3 separate regions of the Homo sapiens genome follow, and regions 1 and 3 are each linked to region 2. Evidence: fine-mapped expression QTL. A gene starts in region 2. Each other region holds a variant in brackets. All regions are shown on one strand. Distances are between the middles of the regions. Region 1 overlaps ZNF470 (zinc finger protein 470). Region 2 holds the start of ZNF667-AS1 (ZNF667 antisense RNA 1). Region 3 overlaps ZNF667 (zinc finger protein 667).

Region 1 (2,769 bases), 110 kb before region 2:
AAATATTGTTTTGGCTATTCTGAGTCCCTTGTGCTTCCATATGAATTTTAGGATCAGCTTATCAATTCCCACAAAAAGGAAATTAGATTGCATTGAACATGTAGATAATGTTGGGAAGCATTGCCATCTTAATAATATTAAGCCTTCCAATGCATAAATATGGGATTTTCTTTCAACAATATTTTATAGTTTTCAGAATCTAACTTTTGTACTTTTGTTGATTCCTAAGTATTTAATTCCTTTTGATGCTATTGTAGGTAGAATTTTTTAAACCTTATTTTTAAATTGTTCTTTGCTTCTGCCACCAGGAGCCCCAAAAAACCTCCCCAAGGCCCCAATCTGCCCAAGGACTCTCAGGCCATGCTGAGTTAAAGGCTCTCTCTGAAGTCACATTAGTCCCAGAGGAGGCTCACCTGGTGGGGCAGTTTGGTGTCATTCCCATTTCAATTAGTCTTTTGATCAGAGATGCTCCTTCAGTTACAACCTCTCTACATAGCATTCTTGATCTGCCAGAGAGTCGGTGTAATGGTTTTAAAATCCATTAGACAAATGGTGTTTTTCTCACGGGAAGAATGAATGTATAGGTTTCTGGACTCTTGTCAGGAGACCTGATGTTGCAACACAAGAACCAATCCAGCAATCCTGCCTTTTGAAGTCTGAACAACATCCTTTACATTATGTTAAGAGATTTCTGGCCTTATAATGTAATTTATTAGCGGCCAGCATTTGGTACATGGATGAGTTCAACAAATTCTTAGAACCATGGCAGGCTACTCAAGCTACTTTGTCAATATATTCAGCCTCCTCAAATTTCACTTCCACAAATGCCCTAGATTTTTCTTAATCTACACTAGTAAACTAACTGCCGAAAATTCTTCTAAGATACAGTTACTCTTTGCCCTATTTTAATTTTGTACATATGTATGATTTTATTTATCTATTTTTCAAACAGGGTCTGGCTTTGTCACCCAAGCTGGATTGCAATGGTGTGATCATGGCTCACTGCAGCCTCGAACTCCTGGGCTCAAGCAATCCTCCCACCTCAGCCTCCCGAGTAGCTAGGTGCCACCATGACTGGAAAATTTAATTTTTTTTTAGATATGGGATAGGGTCATGCTACATTGCCCAGGCTGGTCTCAAATGATCCTCCTGCCTGGGCCTCCCAAAGTGCTAGGATTACAGGCATGAGCCACTGTGCTCAGCCTGATTTTTGCATTTAATGTTATGGTCATGTTAAATTCACTTTGTTATTCCATGTGAGCAACAATGGAATGGGGGAATAAGATGAACTGTTAGCTGTCTCTTCAGAACAGCCATATGTACCTATGCAAACAGATGTTAATAGGTGGTATATCACACGAATCCGGAAGTTCAGTATATTCCAATCCTTTGGCTCATCTCCAATATCACCTTTCCAATAGTAGAGCTATATTTTTTTCTGTTCAATATTCTGTTACACAAGAAGTATG[A/GA]CCATATATCCTGCTTTGCTGAGGATATGAACACCTGTTGTCAAGTGCCCTGTGCAGTTAGCTACTCCTTTCACTCTCAAAAATGTCCCAGTTTGAACAATAAATTATATGGTAATTGCATTAATCAGTTCAGGCTGCCGTAACAATATACCACAGACTGGGTGGCTTAAACAACCAACATTTATTTTCTCACAGTCCTGGAGATTAAAAGTCCAAGATCAAGGTGCTGGCAGGGCTGGTTCCTGGTGAGGTCTCTCCTCCTGGCTTGCAGATGGCAGCATTCTTGTTGTGTCCTTACACAGCATTTCCTCTGTGCACATGTGGAGAGACAAACCTCTGGTGTCTCTTCCTCTTATAAGGACACTAGTCCTATGGGATTAGGGCCTCACTCTTATGGCCTAACTTAACCTTAGTTTCTTAAAGGCCTTATGTCCAAATACAGTCATGTTGGGGTTTAGGACTTCAACAAGTAAATTTGGTGGTGGTAGAGGCCAGCATTTGGTGGTGCTGGTGGGAACACAATTCAGAACTGAATTCACAATTCAATTCACAGTGACTCTTGTGAATAAAGTATAAAATTTAACCAGCATTCCACTTTAACAATGCATAAAAATAGTCTCTAAATTTGGTTATGAGCCATCTTAACCCTATGACTTTAAACAATGTAAGACATCTTTCAACAATATCATACAAAATCCCTTAGGTGAATTTTTTTTGCCTTAATGCTAGAAATTCAAGAGCTAAACTTTAAGTTATTCCAAGCAGTTAGATACCAGTATTACATATACCTTTTGGATTCAGCATTCTCCATCCTCCTTAAATTATCATTATCCAGAACCCTAGACCTCTATTCATCCCAGGTGACTATAATGAATAATCAGGCGTTTGCTCATCGCACACCATGAGATGCTTTCCAGTCTAGAATATAAGTCTTATTCGCCCCATCTCATCCAAAAAGCAACTCCCAATACCTGATTTTTCCAAAGATTCTAATGCCCATTACCCAATCTTCGTACCAAATTCTGTATGATTGTTTCTTTACTTGCAAGCAACTGACCAACAGGAGGCAAAAATCAAGTACCGGAAAGACAATGGGTAGTTTGAGGAATCACAGACTTGGAAAGTACAAAAACCAGGGTGGTTCCAAGGACCAATCAAAAGAATAACTGCATCAGCTTTTAGGGAGTTGCCATTGGATGACACAGATCCAAATGCCTTTTGAAATTCAGAGACAATTTTATTGGCCACGTCCATCAAAAACATATGGTAGGGTATGGCCAGTTACTCAAAAGGAAAAGAT
Region 2 (2,769 bases):
CACAGGCCCTGGGTTCCCCTCACACATATACCCACCTATGCAACTACAAAAACTGGGTCTCAACACACAGGCGGGTACACACACACAGAGTCAAAAACACTGGCTTTCCTTGGCCGGTCGCGGTGGCTCACGCCTGTAATCCCAGCACTTTGGGAGGCCGAGGCGGGCGGATCACGAGGTCAAGAGCCCACATGGTGAAACCCCGAATCTACTAAAAATACAAAAAACTTAGCCGGGCGTGGTGGCGGGCGCCTGTAGTCCCAGCTACTAGGGAGGATGAGGCAGAAGAATGGCTTGAACCTGGAGGCGGAGGTTGCAGTGAGCCGAGATCGCGCCACTGCACTCCAGCCTGGGCGACAGAGCGAGACTCCGTCCCAAATCAATCAATCAATCAATCAATCACTGGCTTCCCACACACACACAACACTCATCCACAAAAACTGGCTACGGCTCGAAACCTTAGTCGGATAGTATTTTAGGCTTTATGGGCCACAAGATCTCTGCTGCAAGTACTGAACCCTGCCATTGTGCAAAAGCAGTCATAGAATAGACGTAAATATACACAAGTATACATATTCAAAATGTGTGGTTCCCCACAGAGACGTACACACCGCAAAAACTGGGCTCTAGAGTCAACAGTAAATAGTTCAGGCTTTGTGGGGCCACACAGTACCTGTTCCCACCTACTCAACTCTGCCCTTCCGCAGAAGTGGATGCAGAAGCTAAACAAATGTCCAGAACATACACACATATTCAAAATCAGTGCCCCCCGCCACGTACAAAACCACAAAAATCGCCTCAGAGACACACGTATAAGAAAACACAAAGGTTCGTCCTCACACATGTTCAGGGTAACACAATGTGGGTCTCACCTACACAAACGCGCGATCAAAACCCGGGACCCGCACGCCCAGATGACCGGGACGAGGCCATACTTCACATCTTCTCTCACAGACTCACAATTACGCAACGGTCACCTCAAACGACTTTATGGCGGACACTCCCGGACCTTCCGCTGTCCGCCCCTCCTCGTCCCTTCTCCCCGCCGGGGTGAGCCTCATCCACCCAGTCTCAACCCCGACGCAGTCAGTCTCACTGCCAGCCCGCCGGCTACGCAGGCGCAACACCGCATGGAACAGCCCCCAGGGCGTGCAGGGGCCGTTGGGAAATGTAGTCCGAGCGCCACGCAAAGGACTGTGGGCCTCTTCGCAAAACGTGCAGGTGAGTCCCCACTGTTGGCCAAAAGAAACATCCCTCCGCTGCTCTCCCGGGTCAGTTCATCTCCGACCCGGACAGAGCAGAACCAGCGCAGCCCAAGCCTTCTTCACCTCACGTTCTGGGTGGGACTTTCCACAGCCTCGCTGCACCCCGGTGGATTCTGGAGGTCGCAGGATGACTGCGTAGTGCGCACGCGCGGGTGGGCGGTGTCCGCCTCCGCGGGTGAGGCCGGCTCCAAACCTCGTGAATGTGGGGGCGAAGGACGCTGGCTGGCTGGAGGCAATAAGCCCTCACACGGGAACGTGTGGTTGTGGGAGCGGGGAAGGCGGCGAATTGGGGAGGTTGGGTTTGGTTAAAGAGCTCGAGGAAGGGCCTCAGTGTCCACACGTGATCTCCTGAGAGGATGAAAAGCAGGGCCAGGCGCCAGTCCCCTAGGAGACCGGTGTGCGTGCCAGCCTCGGGGGTGTGCGCAGGCGCGGGACCTCGCGCGTCCGCCTGCACCAATCGTGCGAACGCGCTTGTGCGTGTGGCGCTGAGGGGTCGGGGCCTCAGGCCGGGGCTGGTGGTACTGTCCCCGAGAGGCGGGTGAGCGCACGCCGCGTGGCCTTGTTTGGGGGCGGGGCCACGCGCCCGCATGCGTGGTGCGTGTGTGAAGGGGGGTGCAGCGCGCGGTCCCGGGGTCCCGGAGGGGAGTGCGCAGGCGCTGAGTCCCTGCTCGGCTGTCTCGGTGGTCGCCGCCGGGGTCTGAGCCCGGGAAGACCGAGGTAAGGGGGCTGGCGAGAGTGTGGGTGTGTCTGAGGGCGTGGGCGGCGCGCCCGCCACTGCGTGGACGTTCCTGCCAAGGCGCGCGTGGGTTTGCGCATCCACGATGGCGTGGGCGTCTGCGCGGGTGCTTGCGTGGGCGGTGGGCTCGCGCCTGCGTGGGTTCTCGGCCCGCCACGGCGTGGGGTTTGCGCCCTTCGCTGCTGTGGTTCTCGGGGCTTGTGCGCCCAAGTGTGAAGTTGGCGCCGCGTGTGAGGCGAGCCGTGTGTGCCTGTGTGTGAGGGAGCTATGTCGGGACCGCGGATGTGTATCGCTGCGTGACCCACGCGAAGGAAACAATGGAGCCATTGGGAAGCCGGGAGTGGGTGTGTGACGCTGACTGTGAAGATTTGTGTTTCTGGAGTGTGTGCGTGTGTCAGTGTCAGGCTGATGTGGGCGTTTATTGTAGCCTTGGGTTACTGTGTGACTTGCCTGGGCGTCTGTCTGCCACTTAGCGTCAGTGGCTTTGCGGTTATGAGTGTGTGACTGTGCCTTTCTGGTGTATATCTCACTGTAACCATGGAAATGGAGGCCCACAGGGGAAGAATTCTTAGCAGCTCTAAGATGTGATGGGCTGCCCTGGAAATCTGTGGAACTGTTTAATTGTGCATGACTTTCCTCCTTGGTAAAATAGCATATTAATAGCACCTGCCTGGGTGTTATTGGGAAGATTAAATGGGATGACGTAGCTGAAACACCCTGCACAGAGCTTGTCACATACTAATCACCGTGTTTAGGTGTTGGTTATGG
Region 3 (2,769 bases), 35 kb after region 2:
ACAAAATCTGATCGTTGTAATATGTGGCACCTCCTCCACACTCTCTCTCCTTGTTTCACCATGTGATGTGCCTTCTCCTACTTCGTCTTTCACCATGAGTAAGAGCTCACTGAGGCCTCCCCAGAAGCCAAGGAGGTGCCAGCACCATGCTTGTACAGCCTACTGAACCAGGAGCCAATTGAACCTCTTTTGTTTATAAATTACCCACTCAAGTATTTATTTATAGCAATATAGGAACTTCCTAATACAAACAGGTAAAATTAATTTTAGTAATATATGTATTTAACCTAATATATCCAACATATTATATCATATAACCAGCATTTTTACAATGAGATACTTTATACTTTTTTGTAGTAAATTTTCACAGTCTGGCATATGTTTTATACTCATAGTATACCTCAAACCAGCCACATTTCAATTCCTCAGTAGCTACAGGTGACTAATGGCTACTATATTGGATAGCATAGTTCTAAAGCCTGTGTTTATCATGCCACATTCACTCAGGTTTATAGTCAGTTTGCCATACAAGTAGTTATTTTATATCACCTTGGACTTTGGCACCCTATGCCAGCCATATTGATCTATTTTACTACAAAATAGATTCCTTCTTTTAGTCTAATCTCTTACCTATTTTTCTGAGCTTTTCCTGCTTCTTGCTAAAGACTTCACCTTTGTAAATATCTAAATACAGTCATATGCTGCATAATGATGTTTCAGTCCAGTCAACAACAGACTACATATATGGCCATGGTTCTATAAGATCATAAAACTGTTATTTGTACTGTACCTTTTCTACATTTATGTATATTTAGATACATAAATACTTATCATAGTGTTAAAATTGCCTACAGGATTCAATACAGTAACGTCATGTACAGGTTTGTAGCCTAGGAACAGGCTATACAATATAACATAGGTGTATAGTAGGCTATACTATCTAGGTTTATGTAAATCTACTGTAAGATGTTTGCACAATGATGAAATTGCCTGACAATGCATGTCTTACAACATGTTCCCATTGTTAAGCAACCCGTGACTGTACTCAATTCTAATTTTTACTAGTTCTTTTTAAATTTGATCTTAAGAATACATTTTTTAAAATCTACAACTTTATTGAGGTAAACATCATAAAAGTCACTATATCTAGAATATAATTAAATGATTTTGGATAAATTTACAGAGTGTGTAACCATCAATATGATCCAGTATTAGAACATTTTTATCACCCCTGTAAGATTCTTCATGTCCATTTTCAGTTAATCCCCATTCCTACCTTGAGCCCCAGGCAACCACTTATCTTCTGTCTCTGTAGACTTACCTTTTCTGGACACATTCTCTAATAAACATACATTTATCCATTGAACAACCTGTGGAGTTCAATGTGCCGTATATGGCATAAAAGTTATCGTATAAATAAAATCTTATTCATTTTCAAATTACACTCTTCTGAACTCTGGTTATTAAATATCTCTGTAAAGCCTTTAGTATAGTCATCAAAACCACAATAAAACACTAAAAAGTTATGTTTTGGTAATCATAATTGTTGTTGTGATTAATAATGATAATTACATTTATATTGTAGAATCTTCATTTTTTCAGCATGGAAAAGGAGAAACATTTAATTCCTTTATGTCTTTCAGACTCGGG[G/T]TCTAAATGTGAGACCAAGAAGTTACCTCCAAATCAATGCAACAAATCTGGGCAAAGCATCTGCCAGAAACTAGTTTCTGCACAACAAAAAGCTCCTACACGAAAGAGTGGCTGCAACAAAAATTCAGTCCTAGTAAAACCTAAGAAAGGGCATTCAGGGAAGAAACCTTTAAAATGTAATGACTGTGGTAAAACCTTTAGTCGAAGCTTCTCTCTTAAACTTCATCAGAACATTCATACAGGAGAGAAGCCTTTTGAATGCAGTAATTGTAGAAAAGCTTTCAGACAGATCTCATCCATCCTACTTCATCAGAGAATTCACAGTGGAAAGAAAAGCCATGAATGCAATAAATGTGGGGAAAGCTTCAATCAAAGAACAACCCTTATTCTACATATGAGAATTCATGATGGAAAGGAAATTCTTGACTGTGGGAAGGCCTTGAGTCAATGTCAGTCTTTCAATATACATCAGAAAATTCATGTTGTTGGGAATGTCTGCCAGTGCAGAAAGTGCGGAAAAGCCTTCAATCAGATGTCATCCCTTTTACTTCATAAGAAAATTCACAATGGAAAGAAAACACATAAATATAATAAATGTGGGAGAGGCTTCAAAAAGAAATCAGTCTTTGTTGTACATAAAAGAATTCATGCTGGAGAGAAAATCCCTGAAAATGCGAAGGCCTTAAGTCAGAGTCTACAGCAAAGAAGTCACCATTTAGAGAATCCTTTTAAATGCAGAAAATGTGGGAAATTATTTAATAGGATTTCACCCCTGATGCTTCACCAGAGAATTCACACTTCAGAGAAACCGTACAAATGTGATAAATGTGACAAGTTCTTCAGGCGGCTTTCAACCCTTATTCTGCATCTAAGAATTCATAATGGAGAAAAACTATACAGATGCAATAAATGTGAGAAGGTCTGCAATCGGCATTCATCCCTTATTCAACATCAGAAAGTTCATACAAAGAAAAAGAAACTATTTGAGTGTAAGGAATGTGGGAAGATGTTTTCTGGAACTGCAAACCTTAAAATACATCAGAATATTCATTCTGAAGAGAAACCTTTCAAATGCAATAAATGTAGTAAAGTTTTCGGCCGCCAATCATTTCTTATTGA

Evidence for each region. PIP is the estimated chance that this variant, and not a neighbour inherited with it, causes the effect.
Region 1: its variant is the best candidate, but not a certain one, in a credible set for the expression of ZNF667-AS1 in whole blood (TOPMed, PIP 0.56).
Region 3: its variant is the best candidate, but not a certain one, in a credible set for the expression of ZNF667-AS1 in subcutaneous fat (GTEx, PIP 0.51).

The regions. Positions count from the first base shown.
Region 1 is chr19:56,581,757-56,584,525 of GRCh38, reverse strand. It overlaps ZNF470 (zinc finger protein 470), which reads right to left. Exons shown (of 6, transcript NM_001001668.4): 6 at 1,632-2,769. Among named protein-coding and RNA genes, the nearest start is that of ZNF71, 12 kb to the left of the region's middle. The variant A/GA (reference allele first, on the strand shown) is at 1,470.
Region 2 is chr19:56,476,485-56,479,253 of GRCh38, reverse strand. ZNF667-AS1 (ZNF667 antisense RNA 1) reads right to left here and starts at 1,380. Exons shown (of 2, transcript NR_036521.1): 1 at 873-1,380. It overlaps ZNF667 (zinc finger protein 667), which reads left to right and starts at 1,909. Exons shown (of 7, transcript NM_001321356.2): 1 at 1,909-1,982.
Region 3 is chr19:56,441,616-56,444,384 of GRCh38, reverse strand. It overlaps ZNF667 (zinc finger protein 667), which reads left to right. Exons shown (of 7, transcript NM_001321356.2): 7 at 1,644-2,769. Among named protein-coding and RNA genes, the nearest start is that of ZNF667, 34 kb to the left of the region's middle. The variant G/T (reference allele first, on the strand shown) is at 1,651.